2 separate regions of the Homo sapiens genome follow, and region 1 is linked to region 2. The links come from fine-mapping of genetic effects on gene expression. A gene starts in region 2. The other region holds a variant in brackets. All regions are shown on one strand. Distances are between the middles of the regions.

Region 1 (8,000 bases), 21 kb after region 2:
TTCACAGTATTCAATCTTGGATTTTATATAAAGGAAATCCTATTCTTTTATGTCAATGTATGGCATTTGACAATTTGACTACATTTGACAATGCCCAGGCCTGCCTTTCCAACAGCCGCTGAGGTCTCTAATTATGTCAAGAACCTCTGAGTTACAGAATTCATTTCATCTGAATTGCATGTGGGCTTGGGCAGGCTGTGCACGGAGCCTGTGTGTGGGTGGCAGGGGGTGGCGGTGGGTGCACTATGAGTCACGTCCATGTGGCTTTTCATAGCTCTCGGTGTAGGAGAAACCCACTACTGATGAGAGAGAGTGAGCGCCTGTCCTCAGGAGAGGCACCGTGTTCTGGAGGGGACGCAGTCCATAACCAAGTACAGAGCAGGCGAGAGCTGTGTAGAGTCACAGATGCCTTGAGAAGGATGGCACTGGGCGATGGGCAGGGTCAGGGGTTCTCTGAAGCGACCTCCAGCCGCACAGGGCAGACCAGGAAAGGGTAAACAGCTGGGGTGAAGTAGGACCAAGGCTTGGCAGGTGAGTGTGGCAAAGAGAGGAGGGCAGGGCAGGGACAGATGATAAAGAGGCTGCAAAATCTCCGCCACGGACAGGGACGGTGAGGCCATGGGGAGCAAAGGAAGTAGGAAAGAGCTGGGGTCAGAGAGTGGGACATTCCCACGAGGCTTGCTTAGGTAGTGTCATTACTAGTGACAGCAAGGTCCAGAGACTGGCTGGTCAGCAATGACCAGGGGATTAAGCCAAAGGACATTTCTCAGCAGGAACCCACATGTCCCACAGTCACGTTCTTTGCACTGTCCTCAGGACTGAGGCCAACCTGGCGATCACACAGGCCACCGCTTACTAAGGCCCTGTTCTGTACTCAGCCCTGTGCTGAGAACTGCACACACTTTTTAAATTCAATCCCAATACGTCTGTTGGGTAGTACTACTGTCATCCCATTTTCTTTTTTTTTTTTTTTTTTTTTTTGGGAGACAAAGTCTCACTCTGTCACCCGGGCTGGAGTGCAGTGACGCGATCTTGGCTCACTGCAACCTCCGCCTCCTGGGTTCAAGTGATTCTCCAGCCTCAGCCTCCCGAGTAGCTGGAATTACAGGTGTGCACCACCACGCCCAGTGTGTGAGCCTCCGTGCCCGGACCATCCCATTTTCAGGATAGAGAACCGAGGCTGCATGGAGGGGGGCCTTACCGGTGCTGGGTCTCTGGTCGGTAGAAGTAGTCCACCGGGGCGTCCAGCCGGGAGAAGATGGGTGGGGGGATGTAGAGCGGCAGCTCCTGGTGGAAAAAGGCCTCCTTCTCGGGCCGGAGCATGAGCACCTTGTCATACATTGACGTATGCTTGCCGCCTGCTTCCGTATGCACAGCCAAGTACTGGAAGTCAGACATCCCTAGAAAGAGAGGTGGGCAGATGGCAGACATTGAGTCCAGGAATGGGCAGCTGCCACACACCGACACCCACATCTGCTTAGGGAGGTGCTGAGTGGGCCATGTGGTGGAGGCTGCAGGGTGAGGGTGGCAGGAAAACACACCCTTCCCAAATGCCTCTGCAAAGTTGGCTCCATGCAGTCTAAGTCACTTACATGAAAATTATTTTGGGGAGGTGGGGAGCTACATGATAGGTGAGGATGGAGTCCAGGTCAGTGCTTCTTAGATGAATGTTACTTTTAACTGTAAAACCTGCAATTACCTTTGCACCAACCTAGTAACATGCATATGAATCTGCTGGGATCTTGCTAAATGCAGGTTCTGACCTGGTGCATTTCTACCAAGCTCCCAGGTGAGGCTGATGCTGCCAGTCCAGAGACACACACAGAGCAGCAAGATGCTGGTTCAATTCGATGAAAAATATGAGGTGTTATGTTTTATGAATCACTTGGGAAACCTTGTCCCAAAAGAACAGCCCTCTTTGGTGAATGCCATGACCCACCAGAATGACTGCCATTAAAAATGCCCAACCCATGGGACCCCAGGTCCTGCTTCTCCTTCATTTCACTTTCTTCTTCCCCTCTTTTCTTTCTAGTCCTCTTTGCCCTTCTCAATCTTTATACTCTTCAGATTCTGCCTAGAACTGCAGATGTAACTTAGCCATCTCTAAGCCTTGTTAGTAATATGCCAGGCACCTCCTGTGGGCCAGAGGCTGGCCCATTCACAAGCATTGCCTCCCGGAATCTTCACGAGGGCCTAAGGAACGCAGGCTCTGTAGCCCGCACTGCACAGACAAGGACACTGAGGCTCAGGGAAGCCAAGCCACCTCCCAAAGAAACTGGCAGGGCTCAGGCAGGCACAATGCCAGAGTCTGTCTTTCTCACCCGTCTCCCTCCCTTGCTTTATTGCTTCCTCACTGGGGTTCCTGGTAGGTGGGAAACCTGATTGAGGGCTCCACGAGGGACGTTCAACCTGCTGAGAGTTCAGAGGAGGAGGAGGTCCCAAGGGGCTTCGGGAGCTAGGAGGGCAAGACCAACAGCAGCCGAGACAAGAGAAGGTTCAAAACACTGTGGTGGGGGAAAGACTGGAGGTCTACTGACCAGTTTTATTTGGTCCCACACAATGGTTTCATTAAAAATTAGGAGATTTCTAGCTTAAGAATGCTGAAGATTGGGCAGCAATGAACCTGCAGTCTCTGGGGAACTGTTGGCTGGAGGGAAGAAAGGCTGCCTCCTGGATGGGGCCTGTGCCCTGCTGTGTCCCCACAGCCCCTGGGCATATCCTGGCCCCCTCCACTGGTGCAGATGACCCACACAGCTCCTGCAGGCAGCTAGGATGGCCAGCCCTGAAATAACCAGACATTGCAAGAGCAGATTTCAGTTACCCTGAAATTTGTAAATGGTGGAGATGATGCCAAGGATCTCCATGTCAAATGTGACCTCGGAGTGGGCCTCAGTGCCCAGCACCCCTTTCTGCCGCCTCGTTCTCTTCCTGATGCGGAGCAGCAGGCTGCTGGTACTGAAGCGGTTGGCGCACACTGGGTGGCAGTATGGGTCCTTGGGCCGGAAGTACAGCTCCAGCCTCTTGGTGGGGTCTGCGTAGATCTGTGGCAAGGCCAAAGGAGACAGAGTGAAGCAATGACAAGCCAAGCAGCCAGTGGGGAGCTGCTCCTCTCTCAATAAAAGCCTGACGGTGATCCAGGAAAGGCCAGGAGGCTCATGTTTCATTCTGGGCCCTTAATTCCCAAAAGGCCCATTTTTTAAACCCATGTATCTTAGTTTTTATCTGGTGGAAAAAATGAGAATCGTCTCCTTCCTTCTAAGTAAATGCCATCATCCATCAAGTGCCTGCTCGGTGTGGGGCATTAGTTGGTCCTTCTGGCAACACTTGAGGGGAGATACTATCACCCTTATCTTTGTAGGGACCAGCCCCACAGGGTCGGTGGGTTTTTCTCCCTGTGTGTGGAGACGAGACTGCAGAAATAAAGACACAAGACAAAGACATAAAAGAAAAGACAGCTGGGCCCGGGGGACCACTACCACCAAAA[T/C]GCGGGGACCGGTAGTGGCCCCAAATGTCTGGCTGCACTGTTATTTACTGGATACAAAGCAAAAGGGGCAGGGTAAAGAGTGTGAGTCATCTCCAATGATAGGTAAGGTCACGTGGGTTATGTGTCCACTGGACAGGGGGCCCTTACCTGCCTGGCAGCCGAGGCAGACAGAGAGGGAGAGAGAGAGACAGCTTATGCCATTACTTCTGCATATCAGAGACTTTTAGTACTTTCACTAATTTACTACTGCTATCTAAAAGGCAGAGCCAGGCGTACAGGACGGAACATGAAGGTGGACTAGGAGCGTGACCACTGAAGCACAGCATCACAGGGAGACAGTCCCCCGGATAACTGCGGGCAGGTCTGACTGATGTCAGGCCCTCCACAAGAGGTGGAGGAGTAGAGTCTTCTCCAAACTCCCCCAGGGAAAGGGAGACTCCCTTTGCAGGTCTGCTAAGTAGCGGGTGTTTTTCCTTGACACTGATGCTACCGCTAGACCATGGTCCGCTTGGCAAGAGGCGTCTTCCCAGACACTGGCGTTACTGCTAGACCAAGGAGCCCTCTGGTGGCCCAGTCTGGGCATAACAGAAGGCTCGCACTCTTGTCTTCTGGTCACTTCTCACCATGTCCCCTCAGCTCCTATCTCTGTATGACCTGGTTTTTCTTAGGTTATGATTATAGAGCGAGGATTATTATAATATTGGAATAAAGAGTAATTCCTACAAACTAATGATTAATGATATTCATATATAATCATGTCTATGATCTAGATCTAGTATAACTTGTTGTTTTATGTATTTTATTATACTGGAACAGCTCATGCCCTCGGTCTCTTGCCTCAGCACCTGGGTGGCTTGCCACCCACAATCTTGGAGGTAACTCAGGCTTGGTGCGGGGTGGAGTGGCTTGTCTAGGGTTACCTACTCTAACAACTACCCACCATAAAGGGTCTTGGTATTTAGTCTCATATGCAAATGTTTCGAGGTCCAAATGAGATTAAATCAATCAGTAACAACCATTTGGGCTCTGACTTGCTGTTACCTCTAGCTTTCCAAGCACATGAAACTGAATACCAACACTCTTTTTGGTCCCTCTCCTTAAAAACCCCAAGAATAGCATCTATGTCATACGACTGTTATGATTAAATATCTATAAAGCACAGCTCCTGGTGCCTAACTCATGGTAGACATTCAATATGTGCCACGTACATATGAATGAATACTTGCCCAATGCTGGGTCACAACGAGCACTGGATGTGTGCATATGAAAGCACCAACAACGTGAACTGGGACAAGGTCACCTACGTGCTAGTGAGCTGGTTCCCAACACCCAGGACAGGGTCTGTCCCTTAGGAAGTGATCAGGAACTATCTCGGGAGAGAATGAAGAAGACTTGGTTCTCAGGAATCTCCTCCTCATAAAACACACACCTCTGAGTCCCGATGGGGCGGGAATGAACCCAAACGTAGGCCTGGCACAGGGGAGGTGCTCAAGAAACATGAGAAGAGTGAATGAGTAAGGAAGGTCCCTTCCCAAAGTGCTCACACTGTAATAATCCCTGAGGTTAGCGAGAGTAAGGATTCTGTCAAAGCCATAAATCAAGAGAATAATATAAAAGAAGAAAACGTGATTAACTGGGGCTCTACTGGCAGCCCGTGCTTAATGAATTCAGGGCTTTTCCATATTCATAAAGGATGAGGAAGCAGCAGGTAAAAGTTCAGACTCTAGAGCAAAGCATGAGTTCAAATCCCCTTGTACCATGTAGATGTCTGACCTAAACTTTCTTGTGTCTTTATCTGAAAAATGTGAATAAAAATGGCATCTAACTCACTAGATTGCTGTGAAGACTCAATCGTGCATTTGACAAGTATTTACAGAACTAGGCACTGTTATGGATGTTAGGAACAGAGAACTGGGCCAGGCATGGTGGCTCATTTAGCAAGATCCCGGCAGATTCATATGCATGTATTCCAGCCCTTTGGGAAGCCAAGGCAGGCGGATCGCTTGAGCCCAGGAGTTCGAGACCATCCTGGACAACTTAGGGAGACCACGTCTCTACAAAAAATACCAAAAACTAGCTGGGCGTGGTGGTGCATGCCTATAGTCCCAGCTACCTGGCAGGGTGAGGTGAGAAGATCACCCGAGCCTAGGAGGTTGAGGTTGCAGTGAGCCATAATTGCTCTACTGCACTCCAGCCTTGGTGACAGAATGAAACCCTGTCTCAAAAAATAAAAAAATAAAAATAAAGAAGTACAGAAGTGAACAAAAGAAGTCCCCACTCTCATGGAGTTGACAGTCTTAGGGTCAAGAGGACGAGAGACAGTAAATTTTTTTTTCCTTTTTTCTTAAATGTTTTATATGTATAAGCCTTTGTCAGAATAAACATTTTAAAACATTTTCAGATTGGAATTAACAGGATGAGGAGGCAGATAATTGCCAGTGGCCACTTTAGTTAGGGCAATCAGGGAAAACTTCTCTAAAGAGACACTTCAAGTTCTGGTACATGTAAAGAACTTACACATAGCATCCTCCAGCTGCCCCACTTGCTGTGTGACCTCGAACAAGTTCCTTCCCCCGTAAAATACAGACTCTGACAGTTCCTACCTGGTAGGGTTCTAAAGAGGACGGACTCTAAGTAAGGCACCTAGAGCCGTACGTGGCAGAGAATAAGATGTCAACCATCACTACCTCTAATCCTAACAACATAACAGTCTATCCCTCTCAGGTAAGTCAACAGAGCTTCATCTCCCCGTGCCTCAGTTTTCTACCCCGGGTAATGAGGATACGGCAGTGCAACACACCCTGTGGGGCTGCAGAGTTGCATTCCTGGCACCAGTGCCCAGGCTGTGGCTCACATTTGTGGATGGAATGAAAAAAAAGCCCCTAGGAGCCGGGCGCAGTGGCTCACACCTGTAATCCCAGCACTTTGGGAGGCCGAGCTGGGTGGATCACCTGAGGTCAGGAGTTCGAGACCAGCCTGGCCAACATGGTGAAACCCCAACTCTACTAAAAAAAAAAAAACAAAAATTAGCCGGGCGTGGTGGTGGGTGTCTATAATCCCAGCTACTCAGGAGGCTGAGGCAGGAGAACTGCTTGAACCCGGGAGGCGGAGGTTACAGTGAGCCGAGATCGCGCCACTGCACTCCAGCCTGGGCGACGGAGCCAGACTCCGTCTCAAAAAAAAAAAAAAAAAAGCTCCTAGGGGTCTCCCCCACAGTCCCTTCCCCTCTGTCCCCTGGGGAGAAAAAGGCTGTTCCTGGCAATTACAGATACCAAAGCCCTGCCCATTGGGCACCCAGAGTCCACCACACTCTCCGTTGCCAAGGAAACCACACGCCCGGGTAGACTCTCCCCTTCAGCCGCCGTCCAGCAACTCCGTCCCTCTCTCAGTGTCCCGGATATTAGATATCCAGGTTGAGTGAGTTCCTCCTCAAAGGTTCAGCTTGTTCAACTCCCTTCTTCTTTGTTCTCCATCTTCAAAGTCTAACTTCCTTGTTCTTTGCGCCTCCTTGCCCTTAGTTACCCGCTCTGTAACTGCCCTTCCCGCCGAAACTATTCTTCCTGGCGAAACCGCTCATCCAGCCACTGTAACCCACATCCCTGTTCTATTTGAAATAGCCAATCGAGATCAGCTTAGATTGTGCGGTCCAACTCCAGCCAGTGGGACAAGACACAGGAACCTTTCCTCCTTTGTTCCGTGTGCTCTGGTGGCCAGAAGAGCGAGCAGCACAGCACCTTTCTTCTGCAGAACTAAATGTGCTAAGTTTACTTCTGCAGAAGGGTGCTGCTCGCTCTTCTGTTTGTTCCCTTCCGTCTAGCGTCAGCTGCTCCTCAGAAGAGCTTTTTGTTTCAGGGGTAAAGGGAGAAGGATTTAGAGCAAAAATCTTAGAAGACGCAGAGTTCAAACATAAAAATCGAACAGCCCACGTTAAATTTCTGCTAATCCCTGAAGCAGGAACTAACCCGTTAGGAAGAGACTTAAAGTTAGGTATAGGTTTACATGTTAGCCCAGAAGGATTCCTCACCTCATTAAACCTACTTACCACCATGAAGAAAAATACATTCATCCCGATCTCTGGTCAAGGGAAGGGAATTGGGGAAGACTCCAAGTCCCACCCCCCCACCATACATATAAAGTTAAAAACCCCGGGGGGAAATAGTAAGAAGGAAGCAATATCCCATCCCCTTAGAAGGCAGAATAGGCCTAAAACCTATCATTGAGAGTCTCATTAGGGACGGGCTCCTTGAACCCGGTGTGTCCCCTTATCCCAATACTGCCTGTAAGAAAGTCAGATGGGTCATACTGACTAGTGCAAGGCCTCTGGGCCATCAGCCAGATATTCCAGACTACTCACCCTGTTGTCCCTAATCCTTACACCCTCCTCAGCAAAATTCCATACGACCATCAGTGGTTTACAGTAATATATTTAAGATGCTTTTTGGGCATGCCCCTTGTCTGAGGACAGCCGAGACATTTTTGCTTGCGAATGGAAAGATCCCCATTCCGGACGGAAGCA
Region 2 (8,000 bases):
AGGTTTCTCCATTTTAGTCAGGCTGGTCTCAAACTCCTGACCTCAGGTGATCTACCCACCTTGGGCTCCCAACGTGCTGGGATTACAGGGGTGAGCCGCCGCGCCCAGTCCCCAGCTAATTTTTAATTTTTGTGTAGAGATGGGGGTCTCCCAGTGATTTTCAGGCTGGTCTTGAACTTCTGCGCTCAAGTGACCCACCTGTGTGGGCCTCCTAAAGTGCTGGGATTACAGGCGTGAGCCATCTCTCCCGGCCTCTGCAGCATCTTTTATTTTACTACAGCTACCAAGGGCCTCCTGCATCTCATGATTCTACTCCAGCTTCCGGGTCTTTCTGTGAACCGCCACTGGTTGTTTGGGGTGAGGGGTGCTGAGGAAAATCTCCCTGCTGGGCTCAGCATGCTGGTCGCCCCACCTCAGGGCCGAAGGCACCCACGCACCTGGCAGATTGGCGTCCCCAGTGCTGAGGAACCCAAGGGGGCCGACACGGTAGTTGAAGGTGACCACGATGACGTTTCCGCGTGTGGCGATCTCCTCGCCGTCATACAGGTAGTTGTTGAGGAAGTTGGCCCCATGGCCGGACCCCATGAGGAAGGCGCCTCCATAGATCCAGATCATAACGGGCAGGTCCCGGGAGACTGAGATGGGGGAGCGGCTGGTGACCCCAGACGCCCCGCCTGGCCCTGTCTCCAGCCGGTCCCCTGTCCCTGTGCAGCAGGTGCCTGGGGCCAAGACAGGGAGGTGCTCCAAGGCGCTGCCCTGCCCCAGGCTGGGCAACGGCAGTGGGCGCTCCCCTCCCCGCCTCTGTGGGATTTCATGGAAGTTCAGCTTTGCAGCCCCCAGACTCAAGCCAGGAGTAGACCCGGGGCAGTGGCTGCATGGGAGGGTCCCTTGGGGAGTAGAGGGGAGGCAGACCTTGCTTCCTGCCCTGGGGCACCCAAATGTTGAGGTACAGGCAGTCTTCATCCCCGTAGGTGCTGTCCTGGGTGATGGTGGCCTGCAGGCATCTCTTCTTGAAGTTCTTGGCCTTCAGGGTCCCTGCAGGTGGCAGGAGTTGGCATGAGGAAGGCAGCCGCCCTCACCCGCCCCGCCGCAGGGCCAGTCCGGCACCACCCACTCCCACCTTGCCAGCCAGGATGTGGCTGAGGATTTTCCAGGGCCTTGGTGGGAGCTGCGAAGGGGATGCCCTTGAAGATGTCCACAGAGTCACCCAGGAGGCCGAGCTTCTTATTGACGCCTTCCACGAACCCACCTTCTGTGTACACGGCGCCCAGCTGCGAGGGAGACACGGGCAGGGTCAGGGGGGCTCAAGCCCCATCGGCCTGAATCCGGAGGGGGCAAGGCAAGCCGACTCCGCGTGCCCAGAGGCAAAGACAGCTTCAAAGCAGGACAGCTCTGCACAGGAGACCCAGGCAGCACCCCCTGCCCTGCAATGCTCAGGGCTTTAGGATTCCTGTTCCTCTCCTTATCCCTGGGGGTGTCCTGCTCCCAGAATCTTAGAGGAAACTGGTTCAACCAGTGTTCCCACTAGGGAAGCCGGCCAAGAGGTGGGATGGAGGTTTGGGTTCTGGCTATGGCCGCCCAGCTTTGACTCCGATCCTCAGTTTCCCCATGTGGAAGACGAGCAACAGCCGTGTCTCCTGTCGGCCTGTTTGCCATCACATGGGAGGCCTGTCCAGCTCCCGGGAGGAGTGTACCCAATGCTCAGTGTACCCGGGATGTTTCACACCAACCTTCCTCCTTTCTGAGGGGTGGGGCCTGCTTTTCCCTCCTCCCATCTCCCTGCACAGGGCCTAGCTGGCTGGGCACAAAGTCGATGGCCCCATGCCCAAGTCCCCACAGTTCCTGAGCCCCCTGCTGGTAAAGAACCCCCTAGGGACCACACCTCCCACCCCCGCCACGCTTCCCTGTGCCATGAAAATGGCCTCTGTGCACCAAGCTGTCCACCCCCACGAGGGGCCTGGAGGTTGGTGCTCATCCACCCTCTGTCCCTGACGGAACTGAGGCTGGGCAGCTTTTGGGCTTGAAGTCACCCTGTTGAGAAGCAGCTGTCTGCCCCAGTGCCACCTCCTGTCCATCTTGGGCAGCAGCTCCCTCTTCCCGTGGTGCATGGTGGGACCAGGTCATTGCTTGCTGGCTGTCACCTGTGCCAGGTTCCAGGTGGGGAAGGGCAGGGTGGCCCTACACCCCCAGGCCCAGCCAGGGTCCCAGCAGCCCTCTGAAGTCTAGGGTGATGGGCCCCCTGTCACACTGGTGTGGGAGAGTGCGGCGGTTGGAACTGGAGGAAAGGAACCAGAAGCAACACATGCAGGCATCGTGGGCATCCCCTGCGAGGCATCTGTGTCTCCTTGTGCCAGTGGCGTGATCCCTGTGCAATTGAGACTGGCCAGAGGGCCTCAGGGTGGGGAAATGGGGAGGGGTCGTGATGACCTGCCGAAGGCCTCTCAGCACCCCAAGAAGAGCTCGCCCAAGAAGAAGGTGACCTCTCCTTTGAGTCAGGAGCCCAGGACCACTGCCCAAACCTCCCGGTCCCAGGGCCAGGGAGTGTGGAGAGCAGGCAGCAGAGGTGGAGACAGGAGTCCCCAGGGCCTGAGACACCGCAGGCGGCAGAACAGCGTGGTTGGGATCTGGGGTCCCCTGTGTGACTCCTGCTGGGGGCAGGGACTGGGCCGGGCACCGACACCGGCTTCCTGTGGGGCTTGGGGTTTCTGTGGCTTCTCCTTCACAGGCAGAGAGGGTAGAATTTATGGATGCCTCGAGAGAGCTCCTGCCTGCCGGCTCTCTTTCTGGAGGGACCCGGACCCGGGTGTGGAGTAGCTCGGCTTTCAGCTTCCTGCACAGGAATAGGAGGCAGCAGCTGTGCCATGCTGGGCAAACTGCCTGCCTGCTTCTCTCCACCCGTCTGCCTGCTCTCCACACTCCCTGCCCCTGGGCCCGTTTCCCCTTCTGTAAAATGGGAACAACAGAGAGGTGGAATCACCAGGATTAGCAAATGTAAATTCAAGAGGCCCAGTTACATTTGAATTTCAGGTAAACAGTGAATTGTTTTTTAGTATGTTTCATTTTTTTCTTTTTCTATTTTTTGAGACAGAGTCTCGCCCTGTCACCCAGGCTGGAGTGCAGTAGCGTGATCTCAGCTCACCGCAATCTCCACCTCCCAGCTTCAAGCGGTTCTCCTGCCTCAGCCTCCCGAGTAGCTGGGATTACAGGCACCCACCACCACGCCCGATTAATATTTGTATTTTTAGTAGAGACGGGGTTTCACCATGTTGGCCAGGCTGGTCTCCAACTCCTGACCTCAAGTGATCCACCCACCTCGGCCTCCCAAACTGGTGGGATTGCAGGTGTGAGCCACTGCGCCCGGCCCATAGAAATTTGTTTCAAATATTGCATGGGACATACTTACACAGCAGTTCTTGGCAGTTTATCTGAAATTCAAATGGAATTGGGCATCCTGTGTTCTACCTGGCACCTGTCCCCATAGAAATGAGCGTGAGTGCCCGGGATCTGCTGCGGGGCTGTGCTGGGCTCTTTCTCAGCCTGGCCCGAAGTTTCCAGATCTGATTGAGCGAGAGAGCAGCAGGACCTGCCCCTCTGCTGGGCTCTTACCTTCGCGGCACTCGCCACTGCCCAGCAGCAGGTGAGGCCCAACACAACCAGTTGCAGGCGCCCCATGGTGAGCATCAGCCTCTGGGTGGCCCTCCCCCTGGGCCTCGGGTATTTATGGAGCTGGATCCAAGGTCACATGCTTGTTCATGAGCTCTCAGGCACTCCCTCCCCTCTACCCCCTCAGGTGCAGGGAGATCCAGTTTTCCCCAAACCCACAGTGCACCTGTGCAGGTTACCACTTACCTGGGAGCAGAGGCAGGTGGCAAGGTGGCGGGTGGTAAGGGGGATGGTGGGGCCGGGCAGGGTGCACAGTGCCCTGCCTTCTGGTTTGTTCACAGGGCTTGGTGTCACTGTCAGAGAAAAGGGCATACTTTGTCTCCATGTCTCCATGCCCTGCTTGTCCCCTAGGTCCCCAAAGGGGCTTCAGAGGGGACCGAGCACGTGACTTCTGGGACAGAAAGGGCAGCATGCTGCAGGCCCTCCACTCATGTGGCTGACCTTATCTGTACGAGCTTTTCCTGGGGCCCGTGGAGCGGGTAGTCCAAGCTGGGTGCGAATCCCAGAGCAGCACAAGGCAGTCCCACTCAAGGGTGTGGAAGTGTCACCATCCAGCCTGATGTGTCCTGGGAGGGAGGACTAGAGGCTCAGGGGGTGTGGGTGGGGGGGTGCGGAGGCATCTAGCCCAACCATGTAGGTTTCCCTGTGGAAACAAAGGGCCCAGCCGAGGCCCTGGGGCATGCCCAGGCAGAGTGACAGAAGGGGAGGGAAAGAGGCCAGTGGGAGGGAAGGGAGAAGGTCGTGTGAGGTTGTGGAGGAGGAGGCGACTCGTATTTTCTGTGAACAGGTATTAATCCTGGAGCCAGGAAAGGCTCTGAGAAGTGAAAGAACACCACGAACAAAGTCTTCAGATGGGGCCTTTAAGCTCAGCCAGTGTGAGGTCACCCTCACCGAGACACTCAGTGGCAGCTCCAGCCACCGCACAGCCCTCTGCAGTGATGGGAACAGGGTGAGGGCAGCCAGAGCCTTCCCACCCAACAGTCCCCCAGGAGACACTGGGGCCTGTGCTTCCCACACCAACCACACTCCCGTTCTGCCACCCCTGCGGCCGGTGCCAGGGACCGAGTGGACCTGCAGAGCCACGTCTGTCCCTCTGTCTGTCGACCACAGCCGGTGCCAGCAATTCAGGAGGCCTAGTGGGCGAGGGAGGCTGGGGAAAGGACTGGAGGGTGGGAGGAGGAGCTCGGCCACAGGAAATAAGGGGCCTGCAGGTGGCTGGGGCGCCCCAGGGCAAAGGCATTTGCCTCAGACCTTTGCTGCAGTGTCATTTACAGTGGCTAAGGAGGAAAGGGGAGGGCAGAGGGGAGGCAGCAGGGAGAGGAAGGAGGTGGGGGAGGGCTGGGGCAGGGCAGAGGGAAAGGAAGGCCCCAGTTTATATCTATGTACATTTTTAGAGCAGCTTTAGGTTCACAGCAAAATTAGAGGAAGATTACAGAGATTTCCCGTATGTCCTCGCCCCACTCCAGTCTCCCCCGTTATCAACATCCCCCACCAGGGGGTACAGCTGTTAACACCTGATGAATCCACATTGACATGTCATTATCACCCGGAGTCCACAGAGGTTTTTTGTTTGTTTGTTTTTTTGAGACAGGGTCTCTGTCACCCAGGCTAGAGTGCAGTGGCACAATCATAGCTCACTGCAGTCTTGAACTCCTGGGTTCGAGGGATCCTCCTGCTTTAGCCTCTGAAGTAGCTGGGATTACAGGCGTGCGCCATCACACCCAGCCGATTTTTGTATTTTTAGTAGAGACTGGGTTTCACCATGTTGGCCAGGCTGGTCTCAAACTCCTGAGCTCAAGTGATCTGCCCGCCTCAGCCTCCCAAAGTGCTGGGATTACAGGCATGAGCCACCGTGCCCAGCCTCATACTTTATTTTTTTAAAATTGGCAAAAAAAAAAAAAAAAAACTTATTTCCTGGCTCTGTCTCTTCCAAAGCCCTAGCAGTAACGAAATCCCAGGAGCAAGCCCCACCCCTGGTGACCAGACTGGGGTCTCTAAACACCATATTCACACCGACTGAGTGCACCCTGGGGAGATGGTTGGGCCGGGTCCGCAACAGGAAATGCCAGGGAGGGGCTGGAGCCTGCAGCATCGTGGTAGCTGTAAGTAAGGAAGGTGCCCAAGACCCAAGGCTTGTGTCAAAGGACTACAGAGGTCAACCTGAGGCCGCCTCTGGGCAAAGATAGACAAGTTGGGCATGAAAAAGCAAGCCTGCAATTGACAGACGTGAGAGTTCACCAGGCAGCCCAGGAAACACGCTCTCCACCCCCTCCTGCCCTGTCACTGGCCCTTGCCAGGGCACTAACTCATTGTTCTGAAAACTGTTAGAGGTGATAACAGGCATTTTCCCTTCTTTTCTGTGAAAATAGTATTTCAGGGTAATCAAACAGACGATGAGGAAGATTCCTTTATAGGATTCCAGCTACTAAATGCAGAGGGAACGATATAATTCAAAAAAATCACCATTTTGCACCCTTAAGGAAGTAGTAGGTCCAGGCAATTATCAACGGCTATTCAAAAGCCATTAAATAGGCTGGACGCAGTGGCTCACACCTGTAATCCCAGTACTTTGGAAGGCTGAGGCGGGAGGATCCCTTGAGCCCAGCCTGGACAACATTAGTGAGACCTCATCTCTACAAAAATTCAAAAATTATCTGGGCATGGCGGTACACAACCTGTAGTTCCAGCTACTCAGGAGGCTGAGGTGGAAGGATCACCCGAGCCCAGGAGGTTGAGGCTGCAGTGAGCCCTGATTGCATCACTGCACTCCAACCTGGGTGACAAAGCAAGACCATCTCAAAAAAAAAAAAAAGACCCACAAATGAAACAAAAAACCACAGAAACCCAAAAACCGTTAGATAAAAGACCAACACATCAGGCTGACAACACCTAAACCTGCTGGTCAATCCTAGTAAGCAGACCTCCCGTGCATGCAGACTGACGCAGCCTAGGAAGAGACCTTGAACCCGAATCTGGCTGAGCCTCCACCTGTCCCCAGGAAATACAGGGGAGAGAGGAGCAGGTTCAGCACCACACAGAAGCAACCAGCCAATCCAGAACAGGGCCATTCTCTGACAACTGACTGTTTCTTCAACAAATACTCGGCACGCACACAGGTTGGGAGGGAGTGCTGCTGCCGACTTGGGGAGACACAAGAGGTGCCTCAGCCAAGGGCAACATGGGGAGCGGGGCCAGGCAGGCAGGCTCGGTGGGCTCAGGACCCACTAGTTTCACACTGGGCAGCCACAGGACAGCAGGGCCCGTTTCCCATGACTTTGTCAAGAAGGTATTCATTTAGAGAAGAACTGACCCCAGGCCTGGAGTCCTCCTAGCTGCCCTCACCCAACCCGACCACATGTGAGGGGGGCACAGGCCAGCACTGCCAGCATGTCACTGAATGAATGAAGGAATGAATGAAGGAATATATGAAGGGACAAAGGGGGCCCAAGCCCCAAGGCAATAAGAAGACTCCCCTGCAGCGCCAACATTCACACCAAGAAACCAAGACTTCTCGGGAAACTGGTTTAATAAGGACAATTCCAGAGGGGCCTGGCTGTGGCCAAAGCTGTGCCAAACGGTTGGGATCCAGAGCTAAAGGCACTTCTTGCCACGTGAGACCATGGGCGAGGCTCCCCACGCTATCTCCACCACCACAGTCATGAGAGCCAAGCGAGACTGGCCTGTGGCCTGGGGCTCCACAGCTGCCCAGCTCCACCTCCGGCATTTACTGGTCTCATCCTGAGAGGCATTGGGTGCCCACTCACTGGCTGGATGCTGGGCTGGTTCATGGGTGGCAGAGCCAGGGTATACCCTTTGGGGATGTCCCTAACCCCTCAGGACCAGAGGCAGCACCAAGCAGCATGTCACAGCCAGTGCTAGGGTCAGCTGCACCCTTTGCTGGGACTCTAGCTCTCCTCAGAGGGCCTCCTAGGGCCATTCCGGGCACTGTGGGTGGCAATGGGGAGCCCCGGCTCCCTCATTAGGCCAGACACCAGTCTGGCCGGGTCAGGGAGGCCCAGCCTTGGGCCCTGTCACACGTAGTCCAGAATCTCTGTCTCCATTTCGTTTTCACTGCCGTCGGATGGCTTGAAGTCCTCCTCCTCCTCTTCCTCCTCCTCCTCATCCTCCTCGTCTTCCCCAGACTCGTACGTCAGCTGCTCTTTTCCGCCATCAGCCTTGGCTGAGCTGGAAAAGAGAGCTGGGGCCGGAGGAGACAAGGCCATGGGTGTCCCATGCAGGCTGCCGGGTGGCCCCAGAAAGGCCACCAGGCTCTGGGGAGCCTGTTTACTACTATAAGGGTCCGAGCTCGAGCTCTTAAGAAGCTGGTGGGTAAGTAT

Evidence for each region. PIP is the estimated chance that this variant, and not a neighbour inherited with it, causes the effect. A credible set is the group of variants that fine-mapping cannot tell apart.
Region 1: its variant is the best candidate, but not a certain one, in a credible set for the expression of CEL in whole blood (INTERVAL, PIP 0.58).

What each region holds. Positions count from the first base shown.
Region 1 is chr9:133,037,128-133,045,127 of GRCh38, reverse strand. It overlaps GTF3C5 (general transcription factor IIIC subunit 5), which reads right to left. Exons shown (of 11, transcript NM_012087.4): 2 at 2,822-3,041; 3 at 1,202-1,400. Among named protein-coding and RNA genes, the nearest start is that of GTF3C5, 10 kb to the right of the region's middle. The variant T/C (reference allele first, on the strand shown) is at 3,485.
Region 2 is chr9:133,057,675-133,065,674 of GRCh38, reverse strand. CEL (carboxyl ester lipase) reads right to left here and starts at 3,694. Exons shown (of 11, transcript NM_001807.6): 1 at 3,607-3,694; 2 at 1,121-1,271; 3 at 913-1,035; 4 at 438-635. The coding sequence starts at 3,672. GTF3C5 (general transcription factor IIIC subunit 5) reads right to left here. Exons shown (of 11, transcript NM_012087.4): 11 at 7,172-7,861. The coding sequence ends at 7,695. It overlaps LOC124902325, which reads left to right and starts at 4,343. Exons shown (of 2, transcript XM_047424377.1): 1 at 4,343-4,926; 2 at 7,501-7,594. The coding sequence starts at 4,343. The coding sequence ends at 7,594. RefSeq lists enhancers at 3,979-4,731, 4,732-5,483.